Homo sapiens: one gene and its partners. Changing the gene in region 1 together with any one later gene gives a genetic interaction. Each region holds a gene or a part of one and is shown on either strand. Other genes may lie near its edges. The genes, in order: TXN, NPR1, PPP1CC and REV3L.

What was found.
Region 2: changes in TXN (region 1) and NPR1 together harm fitness more than expected from each alone (negative genetic interaction), as found in Homo sapiens cells (one large-scale study listed by BioGRID).
Region 3: changes in TXN (region 1) and PPP1CC together harm fitness less than expected from each alone (positive genetic interaction), as found in Homo sapiens cells (one large-scale study listed by BioGRID).
Region 4: changes in TXN (region 1) and REV3L impair growth when combined (synthetic growth defect), as found in Homo sapiens cells (one large-scale study listed by BioGRID).

Annotation. Positions count from the first base shown.
Region 1 is NC_000009.12:110,245,148-110,250,647, reverse strand, and holds part of TXN (thioredoxin), read left to right. Parts: intron 1-5,500. UniProt on the Homo sapiens protein: Participates in various redox reactions through the reversible oxidation of its active center dithiol to a disulfide and catalyzes dithiol-disulfide exchange reactions.
Region 2 is NC_000001.11:153,689,590-153,694,492, reverse strand, and holds the end of NPR1 (atrial natriuretic peptide receptor 1 precursor), read right to left. Parts: intron 4,789-4,903; exon of another isoform or gene 4,700-4,788; intron 4,688-4,699; coding exon 4,513-4,687; intron 4,210-4,512; coding exon 4,111-4,209; intron 1,388-4,110; coding exon 1,296-1,387; intron 1,142-1,295; coding exon 1,079-1,141; 3' UTR 501-1,078; downstream 1-500. UniProt on the Homo sapiens protein: Receptor for the atrial natriuretic peptide NPPA/ANP and the brain natriuretic peptide NPPB/BNP which are potent vasoactive hormones playing a key role in cardiovascular homeostasis.
Region 3 is NC_000012.12:110,735,179-110,740,678, reverse strand, and holds part of PPP1CC (serine/threonine-protein phosphatase PP1-gamma catalytic subunit), read left to right. Parts: intron 1-5,500. UniProt on the Homo sapiens protein: Protein phosphatase that associates with over 200 regulatory proteins to form highly specific holoenzymes which dephosphorylate hundreds of biological targets.
Region 4 is NC_000006.12:111,300,545-111,305,887, reverse strand, and holds part of REV3L (DNA polymerase zeta catalytic subunit), read left to right. Parts: intron 1-5,343. UniProt on the Homo sapiens protein: Catalytic subunit of the DNA polymerase zeta complex, an error-prone polymerase specialized in translesion DNA synthesis (TLS). Lacks an intrinsic 3'-5' exonuclease activity and thus has no proofreading function.

The DNA of each region.
Region 1 (5,500 bases):
GAGCTGTATATCACATCCTAAAGTAAACAAAAATAAATGAGTGAGACTTCTGAATCTTATCGGCCACCCACCTTTCTAAAACCCTACATTCTACTTTACACTCTGAGATGTGCAATAAATGGAGATTGAATTTAGCTATGATCATTACATCCATAGGCTTGATGGAGTCACCAAATTATGAGACCGCTTGTAGGGCTCTTTGTGAACTTGCAGTAGCATGAGAACCTGCATTTGCAAGCCTATTCTAGTCTTGGTTGATTTTAGTCAATTAGAAACCACAAATGTTTTAACAAATAAACACCAAGGTACCTGAGAGAATAATTTGGAAGAAATTCCAGGGTTGGTTGTATTTAACAAATACTTGTTTTGCACTAGGTATATACCAGGCACTGTTCTGGGTGGTTTTTAAGTATCAGTTCATTTAATCCTGAGTGCTGTTATCATCCCCATTTTATAGATGAGAAAACTGAAACACAGAGGTTGTTCATGAAGTTTCAGTGAGTATGTGGCTGAACTAGGATTTAAAATGAAGTGGTCTGGCTTCCCAGCCCTTGACCTTAAGCACTACCCATCGGAGGATGCTCTGTCTTGTGGGTGTAGATCGGGTGCTTAGCACATGACCACAGACCTAGGAGAGCGGGTTGAGGAGGTATCACTTCGGGGCCCTTTACAGATATGTGAGCATTTTCACTTAGCCCTAGTGGAGAAGGAAAGGCGATGGGGGAAGGGTGCAGTGTGGCAACAGAGGCGCTGGACCTGGCTTCCAGTCCTGGCTCACTAGCATCTGCTTAGGCCAGTCACTCCTCTTCCTTGAGCCTTAAGACCTGCCCCATCAACCTCCCAAGGTTGCTTATTCATTGAGCAAACATGGAATATCCAATAAAGGGTGAAGGGTCACTTAAAACAGGCATATGGCAGTGCTCTCTAAACATGGGAGGGCGCAACAACCCCAGATTGTGTATTCTTAGCCAGTTTTTGACTCTGTGCCTTGGGCAACCCCTGCCTTGGCTTGTGCTGTCTTCTCCATCTGGCCTGTCCTTTCCTTTCCTACCTGACTAACTCCTTGTCATGAGCTTCACCCCTTCTCCACTTACCGCCTTGTGTGCCCTAAGTACCCAGTGAATCTTGGCAATTATTATAATGATCTTTATGTCTGTCCTTTACCATTAGTCTCAGTAGATTCCTAGGATCAGAGACCCTGTCTTAATTCACGTTGGTTGCCCCTTCACCTAGCACACCTGCCTTGCATGTAGTATAGGTGTGGAATGAATGAATGATGAATGTGATATGGTTGTTAAGTTACTATTCTAGATGTGTCCCAGAGTTGTTTTTTTTTTTTTAAAAAGAGTGTAATTGCATTTTTGTGAAAAATCCTTATCCCTTGTTTTAATCAAACTTAGTCTTATTAAGGTCAATTTAGCTAGGGGAAAATTGCACCTGGAATAGAGAAATTCTAACTGCCACTGATCCTATCAGATAGCAACTTGATTTTTTTTTTTTTTTTTTTTTTTTTTTTTTTTTTGAGATGGAGTTCACTCTGTCACCTGGGGTGGAGTGCAGTGGCATGATCTCGGCTCACTGCAACCTCTGCCTCCCGGGTTTAAGCAATCCTCTGTCTCAGCCTCCTGGGTAGCTGGGATTACAGGCATGCACCACCATGCCTGGCTAATTTTGTATTTTTACAAAATTAAAACCCCAGTAGAGACGGGGTTTCACCATGTTGGTCAGGCTGGTCTCGAACTCCTGACTTCAGGTGATCCACCCACCTCGGCCTCCCAAAGTGCTGGGATTATCCACCACGCCCGGCCTTGATTTTTATTTGAAAGCAATAATAGGTGCCAGATGCCATGATAAGCCCTTTGCATGCACTATGTCATTTAATCCTCACGATAACTATACGAGTATTTTTTATTAGCACCCTCATTGAACAGGTAATGGCACTGCAGCACAGAAGGTAAAGTCAGTCTCTTGAGGCAGACCAATGCACCATACTGTACTGAGGACAGGTCTTCTTACTGCCTTTAGGAAGTACAGTCATGCATCACTTAATGATGAGGATACTTTCTGAGAAATGTTAGGCAATTTTGTTGTGCACACATAGAGTGTACTTACACAACCTAGATGGCATAGCCTCCTGTACACCTAGGCTATGTGGTAAAGCCTGTTGCTCCTAGGCCACAAACAGGTAAGGCATGTTACTGTACTGAATACTGTAGGCAGTTATAACACAACAGTAAGTATTTGTGTATCTAAACATAGAAAAGGTATGGTGAAAACATGATATGAAAGATTAAAAAATGGTATGCCTTTATAAGGTACTTGCCATAAACGGGACTTGCAGGACTGAGAGGTGCTCTGGGCGAGTCAGTGAGTGGGTGGTGAGTGAATGTGAAGGCCTAGAACCTGTAGACGTTATAAACACTGTATGCTTACAAATTTTATTTTTAAAATTTCTTTTTTCAGCAATAAATTTATTGTAACTTTTTTACTTTATAGTTTTTTTATTTTTTTAACTCTTTAACTCTTGTAATAACACTTAGCTTAAAACACGAATGCATTGTACAGCTCTACAAAAATATTTTCTTTATATCCTTAGTCTATAAGCTTTTTTTAAAAAGACTTTTTAAACTTTTTGTTACAAACTAAGATTCAAACACATACATTAGCCTAGACCAACACAGGGTCAGGATCATCAGTATCACTGTCTCCCATCCCCACATCTTGTCTCACAGAAAGGTCTTCAGGGACAGTAACATGCATGGACCTTTCATCTCCTATGATAACAGTGCCTTCTCCTGGAATGCTTCCTGAAGGGCCTGCCTGAGCCTGTTGTATAGTAACTGTCTTTTTAAAAAAATAAGTAGGAGTACACTCTAAATTAATAATGAAATTAAAGTAAATACAAAAACCAGTAACGTGGGTGTTTATTATCAAGTAGTATATACTGTCCATAATTGTAGTGATATGCTTTTTTAAGTGAAAGCAAGTTTATTAAGAAAGTAAAGGAACAAAAGAATGGCTATTCCGCAGGTAAAGCAGTCTGTAGTGGTATACTTTGTATGTAATTGCAGCGCAGATTTGTTTGCACCAGCTAATGCGATGGGCTATGACATTAACCCATCACTAGGTGAGAGGAATTTTTCAACTTCATTATAATCTTATGGGACCACCACATATATGCAATCTGTTGTCGATCTAAATGTTATATGGTGCATTACTATAGGTGTGCAAAGCACTCGAGGACTTCCGTATGACAGAGCTCCTCCTTCATGTCTGCTTGGTGCACCCTGATCACCCTGAATGTATCTTTTTTTTTTTTTTTTTTGAGACAGAGTCTCACTCTGTCACCCAGGCTGGAGTGCAGTGGTACCATCTCTGCTCACTGCAACCTCCACCTCCCGGGTTCAAGCGATTCTTCTGCCTCAGCCTCCTGAGTAGCTGGGACTACAGGCAGCCGCTACCACACCAGGCTAAATTTCAACTTTTTAGTAGAGACAGCATTTTGCCATGTTGGCCAGGCTGGTCTCGAACTCCTCACCTCAAGTGATCCACCCGTCTTGGCCTCCCAAAGTGCTGGGATTAGAGGCATGAGCTACCGTGCCTGGCCTGAAAGTGTCTTTTAAAACCTTGAAGTGACCCTCTGACAAACTGAGGAACTTTAACTTTGCCTCCATAGATTGATAGAAAAGTATGAGTAGTAGCCCTTTTGAAAATGATAGACCAACCTTATTTCTCTGACAGCCAACAGGGTTATGATACTTATTTTATAAATGGTAACCTCCCTCTGACCCTTACTTGGAGTGAGTTTTCAATAGTATGCATTCAATAAACATTCACCATTTTTATTCCAGCCATTACTGTCCTTGTGCCTCTTACTGGAACCTGTACTTTCATGCTCAGCAGGTGTCCAGCATTAAAAGAAAAAGTAAAGATTACCTAGAAAGAACTCCTCAACAGTAGTGCCACCCACCATCCTAGAGGTCGTCATAGTGTTTGTAGCTGGCCTTTCTTCCCCTTGAGAATTCTCCGTTGGTTTCCGTGATTTGGTTATCAACAGTCCTGCCTGCTCGCTTGCTGTCCTGTGTAGCTTTTGCTGCTTAGGTGCTGAGTGGTTCTATATTTCTTTCCCAGTCCTCTTTTGAGTGCCTGGCTGACATTTTCAATCTCTATTGGGCTCCAAACCAAACCAGTTTCGTGGTATTGTCCTCCAAACCTTGCCCTCTTATAGCATGAACAATGTGTTGAGCATGGGGTATTATAAGAGTTCTCATTTAGCATTCCACAGTTGAGGAATGTGTGTTACTTCAATTACCTTTGAGCTGTAGAAAAATCTTTAGCTGTGGTAACAGCCACTTCTAGGAGAGGAGAAAATACGGATCAACTAGCCCAATTTGCGATGTTAGGAATTTGTCGATTTTCTTAGTAGGATGGCTTTCAAAGGTTAGAGCATCAGAGTCACCTGAAGCCCGACTTTAACTGTAATGGTTTAAGATGGGGTTGATGGGGAAACTTGTAGTACCCCTCAGGTAATTCTGATACTGCAGCAAGGTTTGAGAATTCACAAAGTCTTTTTATTTTTCCTCCCGAGATAGTCTCATTCTGTCGCCCAGGCTGGAATACAGTGGCATGATCTCAGCTCACTGCAACCTCCGCCTCCCAGGTTCAAGCAATTGTCCTGTCTCAACCTCCTGAGTAGCTGGGATGACAGATGTGTGCCACCACACCTGGCTAATTTTTGTATTTTTAGTAGAGATGGGGTTTCTCCGTGTTAGCCAGGCTAGTCTCGAACTCCTGACCTCAGGTGACCCACCGGCCTTGGCCTCACAAATCAGTTTTTAATTAAAAATAAGCAGGAGGCTGAGTGTGGTGGCTCACACCTGTAATCCTAGCACTTTGGGAGCCCGAGGAAGGTGGATCACTTGAGCTCATGAGTTTGAGACCAGCCTGGGCAACATGGAGAGACCTTGTCCCTATAAAAAAAAAAAAAAAAAAATATATATATATATATATATATATATATATATATATAGTGTGTGTGTGTGTGTATATATATACACACACACACACAAAATTAGCCAGGTGTGGTGGCGTGTGCCTGTAGTCCCAGCTACTGGGGAGGCTGAGGAGGGAGGATGGCTTGAGTCTGGGAAGTGGAGATTGCAGTGAGCTGAGACTATGCCCCTGCATTCCATCCAGCCTGGGTGACACAGCCAGACCCTGTCTCAAAAATAATAATAATCAGTAAACCCAGTGTGGGGTTATTCCTTTAGATTACTATTATTTTGTTCTTGAACAATTGATTTTTATTTTTTTAGACTTTTTAGCCTTTATATAATCATTCTGTGTACTCTGCCTTCATAATAAAACTGGAAAAATTATGAGCAAGAAATAAGAGGTACTAGTTCTGAGGAATAGTTAAGATTATCATACTGAGTCCAATTGTAGCAGAATTTTTTGTTGCTTCTTTGTATGATACTTAAAATAGTTGAAAATTTGATTG
Region 2 (4,903 bases), on another chromosome or scaffold:
GGCACCACTGCACTCCAGCCTGGGCGAAGGAGCGAGACTCCGTCTCAAAAAAAAAAAAAAAAAAAGAGATTCTCCTGCCTCAGTCTCCTGAGTAGCTGGGATTACAGGCGCGTGCCACCATACCCAGCTAATTTTTGTATTTTTAGTAGAGACTGGGTTTCACCATGTTGGCCAGGCTGGTTTTGAACTCTTGACCTCAGGTGATCCATCCACCTCAGCCTCCCAAAGTGCTGGGATTACAGGCATGAGCCCCTGTGCCCGGCCAATAATAATAATTCTTAAGGATGTAAATGGGTCCTTAAACCAGTTTCAGCACTGCTGGGCAATTCATAGGCTGTTACTACTCTCAGAGCCTGCATTCCCAGCTTAAGAATCGAGAGTCTTTTTTTTTTACTTTTCCTTCTAGACCCTTGTAGAACAAGAAGTGAGTCTTATTTGAAGTAGAGAGTGGAGAACTGACTGTTTTCTGGCAACCCTCTCTCCCTCAAGAAGAGACACTGTCACTGGAATAAAGATTTTAATTGTCTCTGCTCATGGTAGAAGCAAGGCATACAGGCCCCCAACCCTTCTGCGCCACCCCTCTTCTCCCCTGTGCACTGTGTCTACTGCTGGGTGGAGGGGGTCGGGGGAGCAGGTATTGTGGGCCAGCCCCAGATGTGGGCTCCCCTGCCCTCTCTTCACCTAGTCTCTTTTCATGTTCCCCTTCAGGTGACTCTTTCTCCTCCCAGTAAGTCACAGGGTAGCAAGGCTGAGGGAGGAGAGCATGGGGAGGGGAGGGGATCAGGAATCCACAGCCCAGCCCGGCCTGAGTCCAGGTGGAGAGCAGGTGCGTGTGCCTGTGTGAGTGTCCCTGTGCATGGCCGTGGGCTTGGCTCAGCCTGTAAGCTCTGAGATCCCCCCATGCCAGTCCCCTCTCAGAGGTCCTATCTGGTGTCTTCACTGGGGTCAGCACACCTGAGCTATTCAAATTACTTCCATCCTTTGGCGATGGGGCTGCTGTGGGTGAGGCTGAGGCCTGGCACCTCTGTTGCTTCTGGCACAGGGTAGGGAGGTGTGGAGGGATAGGAGAGGAGGCAGGTCAGCCTCGGGTGCTACTCCCCCTCTCCCCAAGGAGCCAGTAGGTCCGAACCTTGCCTTTGCCCTGGAGGGAAAAAAGAGGATGGGCTGGGGAGTGGCACATGCCCTTTCCCCAGTCAGATGAGAGCCTTAGGGATGGGAGTGGCATTGGCTGCTTGAGAAGGGTAACTCCCTCTAGGACCCCAAAAGGTGGGGAGGGCAGAGGCTTCTCCCTCTACCTTCATTTCTACATCCCCTCGAAGCTCCAGCTCGAAACCACCAAACTCCTCCAGGACAGCCTTGGTCTCAGAAGACAAGTGGATCTTCAGGGCTGGGTAGGACAGGGGAGAAGGGAAGGTGAGCAATGTGAGAGAGGAGAGCAGGAAAGTAGAGGCAAAAGAGACCAGGGACTGTGGGGGTGGACAGGTGGACAGGTACCCTCTCTCCCTCTTTTGGGCCAGGAAGCCCTCTAGCTCAGAGGGGCCCCACCCCCTGAATGTAGTGCGTGACCACATTAGCCTCTCATTTAGAACTCTGGAGCTGTGTAATCCAATACAGTAGCCACTAATCACATGTGCCTGTTTCAACTTAAATTAATTTAAACTAAATACAGTTAAAAATTCAGGCTGGGTGCTGTGGCTCACACCTGTAATCCCAGCACTTTGGGAGGCTGAGGCAGGAGGATCACTTGAGGCCAGGAGTTCGAGACCATCCTGGCCAATATGGCGAAACCCCGTCTCTACTAAAAATACAAAAATTAGCTGTGTGTGGTGGCACTCACCTGTAATTCCAGCTACTTGGGAGGCTGAGGCAGGAGAATCGCTTGAACCTGGGAGGCGGAGGTTGCAGTGAGCCGAGATTGCACCACTGCACTCCATCCAGGCTGGGCGACAGAGCGAAACTCTGTCTCCAAAAAAAAAAAAAAAAATCAGGGCCTCAGTTGCACCCGTCACATTTCCAGTGATAAGTAGCCATATGTGCCTAGAGGCTACTGTATTGGACAGCACAGAATACAGAACATTTTCATGACTATGGAACATCCTGTTGGACAGCACTCTCTGGAGTGTCACCCGGCTCTACACAGCATGGTGGTTAGGAGCTGGCACTTTGGATCCTGCACTGCCTCAGTATGAACCTCAGCTTGGATACTTGCTTAGGTATGTAAAATAAATTCTCTCTGCTTCATTTTCCTAATCTGTAAAATGCTGATAGTGTCAGTACCCATCTCAAAACCTTGTTGTGAGGATTAAATTTAACATCCATAAAGTATTCAAACGGAATGTGCTACCTAGGAAGCACTATGTAAATTGTTGCTTTCATGATTTCATGCTATACCCTCATTTTGTGGCCGAGGAACTGAGGCCCAGGGTGATCTGCCCAAGTGGCTGAGGAGGTCAGTGATGGAGTGGGGCCCAATATTGCCACACCCTCTCTTTGACCACTGTCTGAACTCATGTCCCTACTTCTGGGGTTTGCATCAATCACAGTGGCCTTGTTGTGTTTAACAGTTTCTTTCTTTTCTTTTCTTTCTTTCTCTCTTTTTTTTTTTTGAGACAGAGTCTCGCTCTGTTGCCCAGGGGTGCAGTCTCGGCTCACTGCAACATCCACCTCCTGGGTTCAAGTGATTTTCATGTCTCAGCCTCCTGAGTAGCTGGGATTACGGGCACGTGCCACCACGCCCAGCTAATTTTTTGTATTTTTAGTAGAGACAGGAGGTTCACCATGTTGGCCAGGCTAGTCTCCAACTCCTGGCCTCAAGTGATCTGCCCACCTCGGCCTCCCAAAGTGCTGGGATTACAAGCACCCCCAGCGCCCAGAATGTTGAACAATTTCTGGGAATGTGCTCCTTGAGGACTGGACCCTCAACAAGGGGCTGTACTCTGACAGCCCCCAAAATAGTGCCCAGGGAATATTTGCCGAACTAGATCCCTCTGGGCTCCCAGGACTGGCTCCCAAGCAGCCTTTCTTTCACCATAAGGTTTAGATGGGGTCCACATGAATTTCTCAGCTAACTCTGGATCTGGGCCATGTTACTATCCCAGGGCCTGGCACTCAGTAGTCACTCAATAAATGTTTACTGCATTGAATTGTGTCGAATACAGCAGAAGGATAGAAGATAAACAGGAGGCAAGAGCAAGGGGCGGGTAGGAGTAAGAATTTATTAGGTGCCTGCTGGGTACCAGGGTTTGTGCTAGGCTTCTTGCAATCCTGAGATAGACATCATTTTACAGATAATCCGCTAAGGCTTGGAAAAGTTAAATGACAATTATGTGGTAGACATTTTTAATGGGTTTCTCACATAATTCCTGTGAGATAGATTTTTTCCCTCTTTTTACAGATGAGGAAAACCATGGCTCAGAGAGGTATAGCAAACTGACACACAGCCAGCTGTGGAGCTGAGATTCACAGCCTCACTTATGCTGGCTCTGAAGCCATCTTTACCACATCAAAGGTGGAGCAGAGGGTCTTTTTTTTTTTTTTTTTTTTTTTTTTTGAGACAGAGTTTAACTCTTATTGCCCAAGCTGGGGTGCGTGGTGTAATCTTGGCTCATCGCAACCTCTGCCTCCCGGGTTCAAGCAATTCTTCTGCCTCAGCCTCCCAAGTAGCTGGGATTACAGGAGCCTGCCATCACACCTGGCTAGTTTTTTGTATTTTTAGTAGAGACGGGATTTCATCATGTTGGTCAGGCTGGTCTCGAACCCCCGACCTCAGGTGATCCGCCTGCCTCAGCTTCCCAAAGTGCTGGGATTACAGGTGTGAGTCACCACGCCCGGCCCACAGAGGGTCTTAAAATCAGATTCCTGCTGGGAACTCTCCAGCACTGGCCCGGAAATACTTTTACATCGTTTGACAAGAGGGGCAGCAGGAACCTGAGTCTCTGGTTACAGTCAAGTTGATGAGCCCAGGTTGAACTCTTAATATTATGAGAAGGGGAACTTGGGAGGCGAAAGGGCTAGGAGCTGAAACGGGCTGTGCAGGCACAGGCTGCCCCAGGATGGCATTTCCCTCAGCCACCCTGCCCTCCCCATTCCCTCTAGGAGGGGGCACTGTACCTTCCCCATTAGACTCCATTCTTGAGGCTGTGTTGACTGTATCCCCAAAGAGACAGTAACGGGGCATCTTCAGTCCCACCACTCCAGCACACACAGGTCCTGGGAGGAGCAAGGGAAGGAGCAGAGCCCATCAGCGAGTGAGGGAGGGAGGGGTGTTAAGGGAGGTAGGTGGACAATCCAAGACAGGCAGGAGGCAGGATCTGAGGTCCCAGCTCTGTGTGTGTGTGTGTGTGTGTGTGTGAGAGAGAGAGAGAGAGAGAGAGAGAGAGAGAGACAGAGAGAGAGAGAGAGAGAGAGAGAGAGAGAGAGAGAGATGAAAGGGCGAGGGGCTGGGCCAGGGGACAAGTTTCCCTTGCGAAGCCTTGGCCTCTGGATGCCCGCCTGCACCTTCAGTGGCCTTACCTGTGTGGATGCCAATGCGCAAGCGCAGCTGCTCCTGGGGCCGGTGGCGGATTCGGAAGGAGCGCACAGCATCCAGCAGTGCCAGGGCCATGCGGGCTACCTCGCAGGCGTGTAGCCGCCCGTTCCGCACAGGGAGCCCTGACACCACCATGTAGGCATCGCCAATTGTCTCCACCTGTGGGAGTGGCGAGGGGGTGCAGGACTTGACGGCTGCAACTGTGCGGCCGGCCACACCGTCACACCGGGTGCAGCGTCTGTCATTCTGTACCCTCATCTGTCTTTGCTCATCCCCCATCCCACATGGGTTCTCTGCCTGTTCCCGGGTCTCCCTGTGTCACTGTCTCTGCCCGTGTCCCCGATCTCCTCTCTTAAGACTCCACATCATTCTGCC
Region 3 (5,500 bases), on another chromosome or scaffold:
TGTGGCACTTGAAAACCAGGTTTTCTTATATTTCATTTTTTGCTGAAATTAATAAAGCAGTGCATTTTAATGCCTTGGGAATAGGCTAACTGCAAAGTATACTTAAATTTCTTTTTTTCTCGTGGGTGTTAAATTGGCAGAGAAACAGTTGAAGATGATCCATTGAGGATATGTAGATATCTAAGTTAAATGATGTTGGTAATAAATTCTGTTTTACAATTTTTTATTTAAAAAAATTAAATTTAATAATTTAAAATAGAAATGAGAGTCTCACTGTGTTGCCCAGGCTGTTCTCAAACTCCTGGTTTCAAGCAGTCCTCGCACCTCGTCCTCCCCAGGTGCTGGGGTTATAGTCATGAGCCACCGTGCCCGGCCTAAATTTTATTCTTTTCATAATGCCCCCAAAACCTTTTTTTTCCCTAAATAAGATGTAAGTATATCTGAAAGTAGAGGGAATATGACTTGTGACTTTGGCCAGATTTTTTTACGTGTTTAGAATTGATCTTTTAAGCTTGCGAGCAGTATAACCTAGTTGAGAAGTAGCTGAGTAATAGTACTAAAAAGCTAACTGAAAAGTGAAGTCTTAAGAAAAACAGCATGTTGGTTTAGATCTTAGTCACTAACCTTTGCAGTTCTTTTCTTCTCTGAACTCTGAGTATTTCTGTAAGCGAGGCATCACCTCTGCAACCCACCATGGATGCTTTTATCCAAGCTCTGCCTTGCTGATGATAAAACTTAAGGTTGTTAACTCCTTAGTATAACTGATGTTAGTTATTTAAATAACTACACAGTAAAACGGCATTTTGAGAGAAAATAAGCCAGCTGTTGATTTGGTCTGATGTATTGAAGACAAGTGAGATTTGGGGCAGTTTTACTTTGTAAATGACCTCCTTCAAGGAGCCATGGTGGCTAGCATTTTTTTTGCATAGCAGGTGGTTGTAACTTACTTCACATCTTGGTTTGCAAGAAGCATCTTTGCTTTGAAGAAGGCCATTGTCAAAGTGCAAGACCATGTCAGGCTCTGCAGAATTGCCTGACTTGTTTTAGTGATTTAAATATGATCTCTGCCCTGGCTCACAGAAAGTGCTTACAGATTTAATCCTCTGATACATAAGGGTTGTTCTGAAGGTAGGGAGTGTTCAGATATTCTGAAACTCTAAGATTGTTTAAATAACCCATATGTTCATCTTTTTGATGCAGTATAAAACGTTCATATTCTGGTGTTTAGCCATCCCTGGTCCTAAAGATAATAAAGGACAAACATAATGGTTTAAAAAGGGGAAGGTTTCTTAATATGCTAACCAAAAAAAAAAACAAAAGTAATCTTTCCTAATGAACACCTGTAATTATTTATTTTTTTATTTTATTTTGGAGACAGAGTCTCACTCTGTCACCCAGGCTGGAGTGCAGTGGTGGGATCCTGGCTCACTGCAACCTCTGCCTCCCGGGTTCAAGCGATTTTGGTGTCTCAGCCCCCTGAGTAGCTGGGATTAACAGGCATGCACCACCACGCTCGGCCAAGTTTTTGTATTTTTAGTAGAGATGAGGCCAGGCTGGTTTTGAACTCGTGACCTCAAGTGGTCTGCCCGCCTCAGACTCCCAAAGTGCTGGGATTACAGGCATGAGCCACCGTGCCCAGCCTGTAATTATTTGTTTACAGAGCAGGTAATTTTTACACTCACATCCAAGTTGTCAGTTTCTAATTCCCTCATTGATAAGAACTCTGATGTGAGCCCTTGCCCTTCCTTTCCCATCAGTATGTTGGTCATATGCCCACTTCCTCTCCTCCTAGGCAAGGTGGGAAAGCTCTGTTGGAGACAGATGATCTGCAGCTTGCAGGAGTCCTTTTTTAAACCACAGCATTGAAAAAGGATTACTCTCCTTGTGCCCGCAGTGCCCTCTTGCCTGTCAGTAGCAGGAGGCAGCAGTGAAATCTGACAGAATTGTGTGTGACGTTGTGCTTGCGGGGGATGTGACACACAGGAGCGCTCTGCATTCTGAGCCTAGGGTGTTCCTCCTCATAACTGGGCAAATGGACATGCAGTTGTAGCCCAGCAGTGGTCAGCTGTAGAAATTAGTGAGGTGATTTGATGTCTTTGAAAGCACAGTCCTATTACAACCTGTAACCTGTTGTGCAGAATCACAGTACCAGTCAGCCCACTTGACTAGGTGAGGATTCCTGATGGTGAAGCAGGGAAATTATTGATGTTATGTGGACTTCACCATTTAACTTAATTTACAATTGAGGCCATTAGTTGACCTGAGAGATTAAAATATGAAGGAGATAATATTCTGGGTGTCAGTCGCTTTGTAGATAAAGAACTGGAAAGTCATTCAAGACCAAGAAGGAAGGATTTCATTTCCATGGAGCTTATGGAATTCCAGGATAGAGTTTGATATTTTAAGATCATACCTCTGTATCCAAAGCATCAAGAACAGATGATGTGTTTGTGGATCTTGGTGATTTGTCTGAAATCTCCAGCTTCCCCACTTCACTGGGGTTTACTGTCATCCCTCTTCTAGAAGGTAGTGGTCATCACCGACAGTAAAGCTTACAGCAAATGAAAACTCAAAATGTAGTCTACTCAGTGGTATATTACCGAAATGTGTTCTTAGACTGTGAAAATTAAAGTTTTTAATGGATTGGCTTTACTCGAGGTGTAGAAAACTCAAGATGCTTTATTGAGAACAGTAGACAGTGTTTTGCAGCCACATCCTATCTGCCTTGAAAAAAATGGTGTCACTTTTATTTTTTTTACTAGAGACTGGGTCTCACTCTGTCCCCAGGCTGGAGACCTGAACTCCTGGGTTCAAGCGATTCTTCCTCCTCATCCTCTTGGCTAGCCGGATCTATAGGCACACACCACCACACCTGGCTAATTTTTTTTTCTTTTTCTTTTTTTCTTAAAGACAGGGGTGTTGCCTAGGCTGTTCTTTAACTCCTGGCCACAAGCAGTCCTCCCACCTCAGCCTCCCAAAGTGCTGGGATTACAAGCGTGAACCACAGCTCCCTGCCTTGGTGTCACTTCTCAATGCCTGAAGTGTAACCCCATCTGTTAGGAAAATCAGGATGGGAGAGGGCAGGGTGTGGAAACAATTGTGATAATCAGAACATGGAAGTCTTTCTGCTGGTGACTTTGCAGAGAAACTTAAAGGGTTCTTTTTTCTTTTCTTTTCTTTTTTTTTTTTTTTTTTTTTTTTGAGTCTTTCTTTGTCACCCAGGCTGGAGTGCAGTGGCAGGATCTCGGCCCACTGCTGCCTCCACCACCCAGGTTCAAGCGATTTCTCCTGCCTCAGCCTCAGTTGTTGAGTAGCTGGGACTACAGGCATGTACCACCATGCCCTGCTAATTTTTGTATTTTTGGTAGAGATGGGGTTTTACCATGTTGGCCAGGCTGGTCTCAAACTCCTGACCTCAGCTGATCCACCCACCTTGGCCTCCCAAAGTGCTGGGATTACAGGCGTTAGACACCGCATCCGGCCCAAAGGATTCTTGATAACATTTTTGTGGTTTATACTTTTTGCAGAAAAGAACTCAGTCGTTTATGGGAATGCTTAATGTTGGAAGTATTTACTGTTTTTTGTTTTGGTTTGAGTCTTATTTTCCTAAATCTGTCAAATATCATGAGGCTATTGATTTCACTGAAATGAATATGATGTGGCATATTGTTAAAATTATCACCTACTTTTTAACAGGATTATTTTAAAACAGCAAAATCTTCGTTGGCTTATTTTTATACCACTTGTGCCTTTCTTAGGTTCTGAAACTTCATTAGAATTCAGCTAGGGCTTTTTTAGTATATGCTATTTCTTTAATATGTTTTTATTTAAACAATTAAGGGGCCTTTATGTGGCAAGGAAAATACTTTTTTATTCCTTATAAATAATCTCAAACTTGTCTTAAATTTCCTTCCATAGTTTCCATCTTTGCTTTGCTTTTTGCCAGCAGCTAACTTTCAAAAGTTAGTATTGCTTATGAGAAAGAGCTGGTGTTGTAAATAATCACCAATGCTATTTTATTTATTTATATTTTTTGAGACAGGATCTCACTCTGTGGCCCAGGCTGGAGTGCAGTGGCATGATCTCGGCTCAATGCAGCATCTGTCTCCCGGGCTCAAGTGATCCTCCCATCTTAGCCTCCCGAGTAGCTGGGACTACAGGCGCACGCCACCATGTCCAGCTATATTTTGTATTTTTGGTAGAGACTCAATTTCACCATGTTGCCCAGGCTAGTCTCTAACTCCTGAGCTCAAGTGATCCTCCCACCTCGGCCTCCCAAAGTGCTGGGATTATAGGCCCAAGCCACCACATCTGGCTGCTATTCTTTTATAATTCAAATTTTTACCAGTTTGTTTTCAATAAAAATGTGTGGAAGTTTTTATTATTGCTCGTGTCAGTGATTTGCCAGAAAAATAGATCAGATACATTTCTACAGAGCAACCTTCGCTTTTAACAGTAATAATACGTTTTCCTGAATCTCCCTTTCTAGCCAGATAAAGAAATATTAATACTTCTACTGAAAAGTCACATCCTTAGGTCTAAGTTGGTGTTGCTTTTTTGTTGTTGTTTGTTTGTTTGTTTTGAGACGGAGTTTGTTTGTTTGTTTGTTTGTTTTGAGACAAAGTCTTATTCTTGTTCCCCAGGCTGGAGTGTGATGATGCGATCTGGGCTCACTGCAACCTGCCCCGTGGGTTCCAGCGATTCTCCTGCCTCAGCCTCCCGAGTAGCTGGGATTACAGGTGCCTGCCACCACGCCTGGCTAATTTTTGTATTTTTAGTAGAGACGGGGTTTCACCATGTTGGCCAGGCTGGTCTCGAACTCCTTACCTCAGGTGATCCGCCCGCTTCGGACTCCTAAAGTGCTGGGATTACTGGCATGAGCCACCGTGCCTGGCCGAGACGGAGTTTCTTTCTTGTTGCCCAGGATGGAGTGCAGTGGCACAATCTCGGCTCACTGCAACTTCCACCTCCCAGGTTCAAGTGATTCTCGTGCCTCAGCCTCCTGTGTAGCTGGGGTTACAGGCGTGCACCACCATGCCCAGCAAATTTTTGTATTTTTAGTAGAGATGGGGTTTCACCATGTTGGCCAGGCTGGTCTCGAACTCCTAACCTCAGGTCATCCACCCATCTCGGCCTCCCAAAGTGTTGGGATTACAGGCATGAGCCACCGTGCCCAACCTTCTCCTTTGGTTTTGAAGTTCAATGTAGAACAGATTCTTAATTGGGAATTAAGAATGCACCACTAGATGTAGCATCGCGGCCTCGTGTCCTTAAGCTCTGTGACCTTGGACTAAGTCACTGTAAAATGGGAGATGACAGTGCCTGACTTCCTAGGATCGTTGACAGGATTGAATGGCAATATAAAGCCCTTAGTACAGTGCCTAGTGGATAAGTGCTCAGTAAATGTTAACTACAACGAGTAAATAATTCTGTTTGATGGACATTGAAAATAGTGAAGTGGGCCAGGCACGGTGGCGCACGCCTATAATCCCAGCTACTT
Region 4 (5,343 bases), on another chromosome or scaffold:
GGTGCTCCCAGCTTCTATTTATTTAATAGACTTCTGTCCTGATGGCAGCAGCCAACTCTCATAGAAAATTCCCTTGCTGGATCCTAGTATGACGCCTAAATGAGAGCAGGACCTCCAGGGCTCTGCTAAGGTCAGGCTGTTAAATGGTCCTTTCCTAGACTTTCTTATGTTTTTTCTGCACTCAATGACAAACACATCACTACTTGGTGCCATCAATTTACCCAGAGCCCATCCTCCTTCAACATTAGGTGTTCATTCTTTTTTTCTTTTTATTTATTTATTTTTATTTTATTTTATTTTTGAGGTAGGGTCTCACTTTGTCACCCAGACTGAAATGCAGTGGCATGATTACAGCTCATTGCAGCCTCAACCTCCTGGGCTCAAGTGATCCTCTCAGCTCAGCCTCCCATGTAGCTGGGACTACAGGCATATCCCACCATGTTTTACTAATTATTTTTTTTTAGACATCGGGTCTCACTATGTTGCCCAGGCTGGTCTCAAACTGTTGGACTCAAGCAATCCTCCCACTTCAGCTGCCTAAGGGCTGGGATTACAGGCATGAACCATGATGCCCGGCCATCTTATTTCTTATAAAAATACAGTTTAAAAGAAAGTGATGCCACAGCCATAAAAAAAGAATAAAATCGGCCGGGCGTGGTGGCTCATGCCTACAAATCCCAGCACTTTCGGAGGCCGAGGCGGGCGGATCACGTGAGGTCGGGAGTTCGAGACCAGCCTGACCAATATGGAGAAATTCCATCTCTACTAAAAATACAAAATTAGCCAGGCGTGGTGGCACATGCCTGTAATCCCAGCTACTCAGGAGGCTGAGGCAGGAGAATCGCTTGAACCTGGGAGGCAGAGGTTGCAGTGAGCTGAGATTGCAGCATTGCACTCCAGCCTGGGGAACAAGAGCGAAACTCTGTCTCAAAAAAAAAAAAAAAAGAACAAAGAACAAAATCATGTCCTTTGTAACAACATGGATGCAGCTGGGGCTATTATCCTAAGCAAATTAACGCAGAAACAGAAAACCAAATACTGCATGTTCTCACATATAATGAACATTGGGTACTCATGGACATAAAGATGGGAATGATGAACACTAGGGATTCCAAAAGGGGGGTGAGGAGAGGAAAAGTTGAAAAACCACCTGTCAGATACTACATTTACTGCATGGGCAACAGGATCATTAGAAGCTCAAACCTCAACATCATACAGTATACCCATGTAACAAACCTACATGTATACCCTTGGATCGAAAAAAAAAAAAAAAAGAAAAAGCGATGCTATTTATAAATAATGATGGTTTGTCATCTTTCAAGAGCTATTTTAATTTGAGGTGTTTTTCAAGAACGTTCAAATGAATGTCTCCCATACACTAATTTGTAGAAATTTTTAATGAAGCAGAAATTACTAGAGATGTAATGAGAATTAGAAACACATCCAAACAGGAGATTTTACATCATTCTCAATCCAAGACCAATCAAGTGATCAGAAATAAGTGAAATTATGGAAATTGTAAACATTATAAGTCAGACCTTGTGATTATATATCAAACTCTGTAACCCAGTACCAAAAAATGTACTTCTTAAGTGTTTCTAGAATGTTTTAAATGTCTCCCATGCACTAATTTGTAGAAATTTTTAATGAAGCAGAAATTACTAGAGATGTAATGAGAATTAGAAACACATCCAAACAGGAGATTTTACATCATTCTCAATCCAAGACCAATCAAGTGATCAGAAATAAGTGAAATTATGGAAATTGTAAACATTATAAGTCAGACCTTGTGATTATATATCAAACTCTGTAACCCAGTACCAAAAAATATACTTCTTAAGTGTTTCTAGAATGTTTTAAAAATATCTGGCCAGGTGTGGTGACTCATGCCTGTAATCCCAACACTTTGGGAGGCCAAGGCAGGTAGATCACCTGGGGTCAGGAGTTTGAAACGTTTGGCCAACATGGAGAAACCCCAGCTCTACTAAAAAATACAAAAATTAGCCAGGCATGGTGGCATGAGCCTTGTACTCCCAACTACTCAGGAGGCTGAGGCAGGAAAATCACTTGAACCCAGGAGGCAGAGGCTGCAGTGAGCCGAGATCACACCACTGAACTCCAGCCTGGGTGACAGAGCAAGACTCCATCTTAAAAAAAAAAAAAAAAAAAAAAAAAAAAAAAAAAAAGTCATAGTCTGTTAAAAAAAAAAAAAAAAAGCCTCGGCTGGGGATCATGGCTCACGCCTATAATCCCAGCACTTTGGGAGGCTGAGGCAGGAGGATCACTTGAGGGCAGGAGTTTGAGACCAGCCTGGCCAACATGGCAAAACCCCATCTCTACTAAAAATACAAAAATTAGCAGGGTATGGTGGCAGGCACCTATAATCCCAGCTACTTGGGAGGCTGAGGTAGGACAATCGCTTGAGCCAGGGAGGCAGAGGTTACAGTGAGCTGAGATTGTGCCACTGCACTCCAGCCTGGGCAACAGAGTGAGACTCCATTTCAAAAATAATAAATTAAAAATAAAATAATAAAAATTAAAATTTAAAATTAGCCAGGCATGGTGGCGGGCACCCGCAATCCCAGCTACTAAGGAGGCTGAGGCAGGAGAATCACTTGAACCTAGGAGGCAGAGGTTGCAGTGAACTGAGATCATGCCACTGCACTCCAGCCTGGGCAACAGAATGAGACGCTCTCTCTCATCTCAAAAAAAAAAAAAAAAAGAAAGAAAAGAAAGCCTCAGTACATTTCAAAAAGTAGAAATATTACAAATGAATGTAATACAATGCTATAAAATGGTAATTAATTACAAACTAAAAAAAAAAGTGATCCTTCCACTTGTAAATTCTGTTAAACAAAATGAAAACACTGCAAATCAGATTCTAGATGGCAGACCTCAGAGAAAAATTCATCACCTTAACACTGTTAATCATAAACATGAAAGAATGAAAGCAAATGAAGCAAGCATCTGACTGAAAAATTTTTTTTGAGACGGAGTCTCACTGTTGCCCAGGCTGGAGTGTAGTTGGTGCAATCTTGGCTCACTGCAACCTCTGCCTTCCAGGTTCAAGCAATTCTCCTGCCTCAGCCTCCCGAGTAGCTGGGATTACAGGCATGCACCACCACGCCCAGCTAATTTTCGTATTTTTAGTGGAGACAGTTTCACCATGTTGGCCAGGTGGTCTCAAACTCCTGACCTCAGGTGATCCACCTGCCTCTGCCTCCCAGAGTACTAGGATTACAGGCATGAGCCACTGTGCCCAGCCTTGACTAAATTTTTTTTGAACAAGAAAGCCAAAGGATAGTAAAAAGAATAAAGATTAAAGCAGATATTTTTTAAGTGCCTGCCTCCCTATGTGCTACAAAGTAGATGTCCGGGTTGGGGCACTAAAGTTTTAAATGTAAGCCTGAATCAAGCTATAATGCTCAGGGTTTAAACCAGTAAAGGATCTTGAAACTAAACACTGAGTTAAATTTAGTGAGTCAAGTAATTCCATCCTGGCTTATTTATCAGACAAGCACAGAAAGAGCTTAAATATTTATCAGTTTGTCCTGGCACCTGAATGTAACTGCAATTCATAGAGCTGTAATACAGAAATTCTATATTTGGGAATAGATTTGAGTCTCTTGGCAGAGATCTAATTAGCAAAGGCTTCATCATAGAACAGCATACTCAGTCTTCATGGAGCATACTGAAGCACATGTTTGTAAGCAGTCTGCTTGTGACAATATCATAATATTGGATACAGTAACCAGTCTACTTAGAAAAAGTGTGCCCTTCGGTTAACTGGAAGATAACTGGGGCAAAGAACAAAACTTCACTGGCCTGTGAGCCATCTCTGAAACTGAAACCCTTTGATAAATATAGATCAAAGAATTCACTAGAGCGTATTTGATTTCTCTTAAAAGACAATCCAGAGTAGTTGTTGCCATTTGGTATGGCTTTTTTAAAATCACTTGTCTACACTATTCAGGTGAAAGTCGGCCTGCATTTTCTTAACCTTTGGAGTCTTCATTGGCATCCTTTTTAATTTTTTTATGTTCTTCATGTTTTATAACCTTTTTTTTAACTATATATGCAACTTGAGACTTTAAAGTATTTTTAAAAATTGATCATTGTGTAAAACATTATAGTGCTTCTCTTTTTAAAAATTGCCTTATGATTTATTATTTTCCTTAAGATCAGATCTTATTATACATCCAAATCATCTGGGAAGCCTTAAGAAGTACAGATTCTTAGGCTTTCATGCCTGGAGATTCTGACTCATTATGGGTCTGGGATGGGGCACTTGTTTATTTTTAAGCTCATTGTTAGCCAGGGTTAAGAACCACTGGTCTGCACCACTACTTTCAAATTCACATTATTTGATTTTTTTTTTTTTTGAAATTTTACAGCTGGGTCTCTGGGGGTGACATCACATGTTGGCAGGTTCCTTGATGCCCCTTGAGCCACAAAACCAGCAAGTTTTTATTAGGGGTTTCAAAAGGGGAGGGGTGTACGAATAGGGAGTGGGTCACATGCTTCAAAGGCAGTAAAATATCACAACAGCAAAGAGGCAGAGTGAGATCACAAGGCCAGGGTGAAACTAGAATTACTGATGAAGGTCCATGTCGTGCTGGGCACACATTGTCATTGATAAACATCTTAACAGGAAACAGGGTTCGTGATCAGACAACCAGTCTGACTAGAATTCGCCAGGCTGGAATTTCCTAATCCTAGCAAGCCTGGGGGTGCTGCAGGAGGCCAGGGCATATTTCATCCCGTGTCTACAACTGCATAAGACAGACACTCCCAGAGTGGCCATTTTAGAGACCTACCCCTGAGAATGCATTCGTTTTCCCGGGGTTATTCCTTGCTGAGAAAAGAATTCAGCGATATTTCTCCTATTCGCTTTCTGAAAGAAGAGAAATATGACTCTGTTCTGCCAGGCCCTGCAGGCAGTCAGATTTTATGGTTATCTCCCTTATTCCCTGCAAATCGCTGTTATCCTGTTCTTTTCAAGGTGCTCAGATTTCATATTGTTCAAACACACATGCTTTACAAACAATTTGTGCAGATAACGCAATCACCACAGGGTCCTGAGGCGATATACATCCTCAGCTTACGGAGATGACGGAATTAAAAGATTAAAGACAGGCATAGGAAATTATAAGAGTATTGATTGGGGAAGTGATAAATGTTCATGAAATCTTCACAATTCATGTTCAGAGATTGCAGTAAAGACAGGCATAAGAAATTATGAAAGTATTAATTTGGGGAACTAACAAATGTCCATGAAATCTTCACAATTTATGTTTTTCTGCTGTGGCTTCAGCAGGTTGCTTTTCTCTTCTGGAATACGAA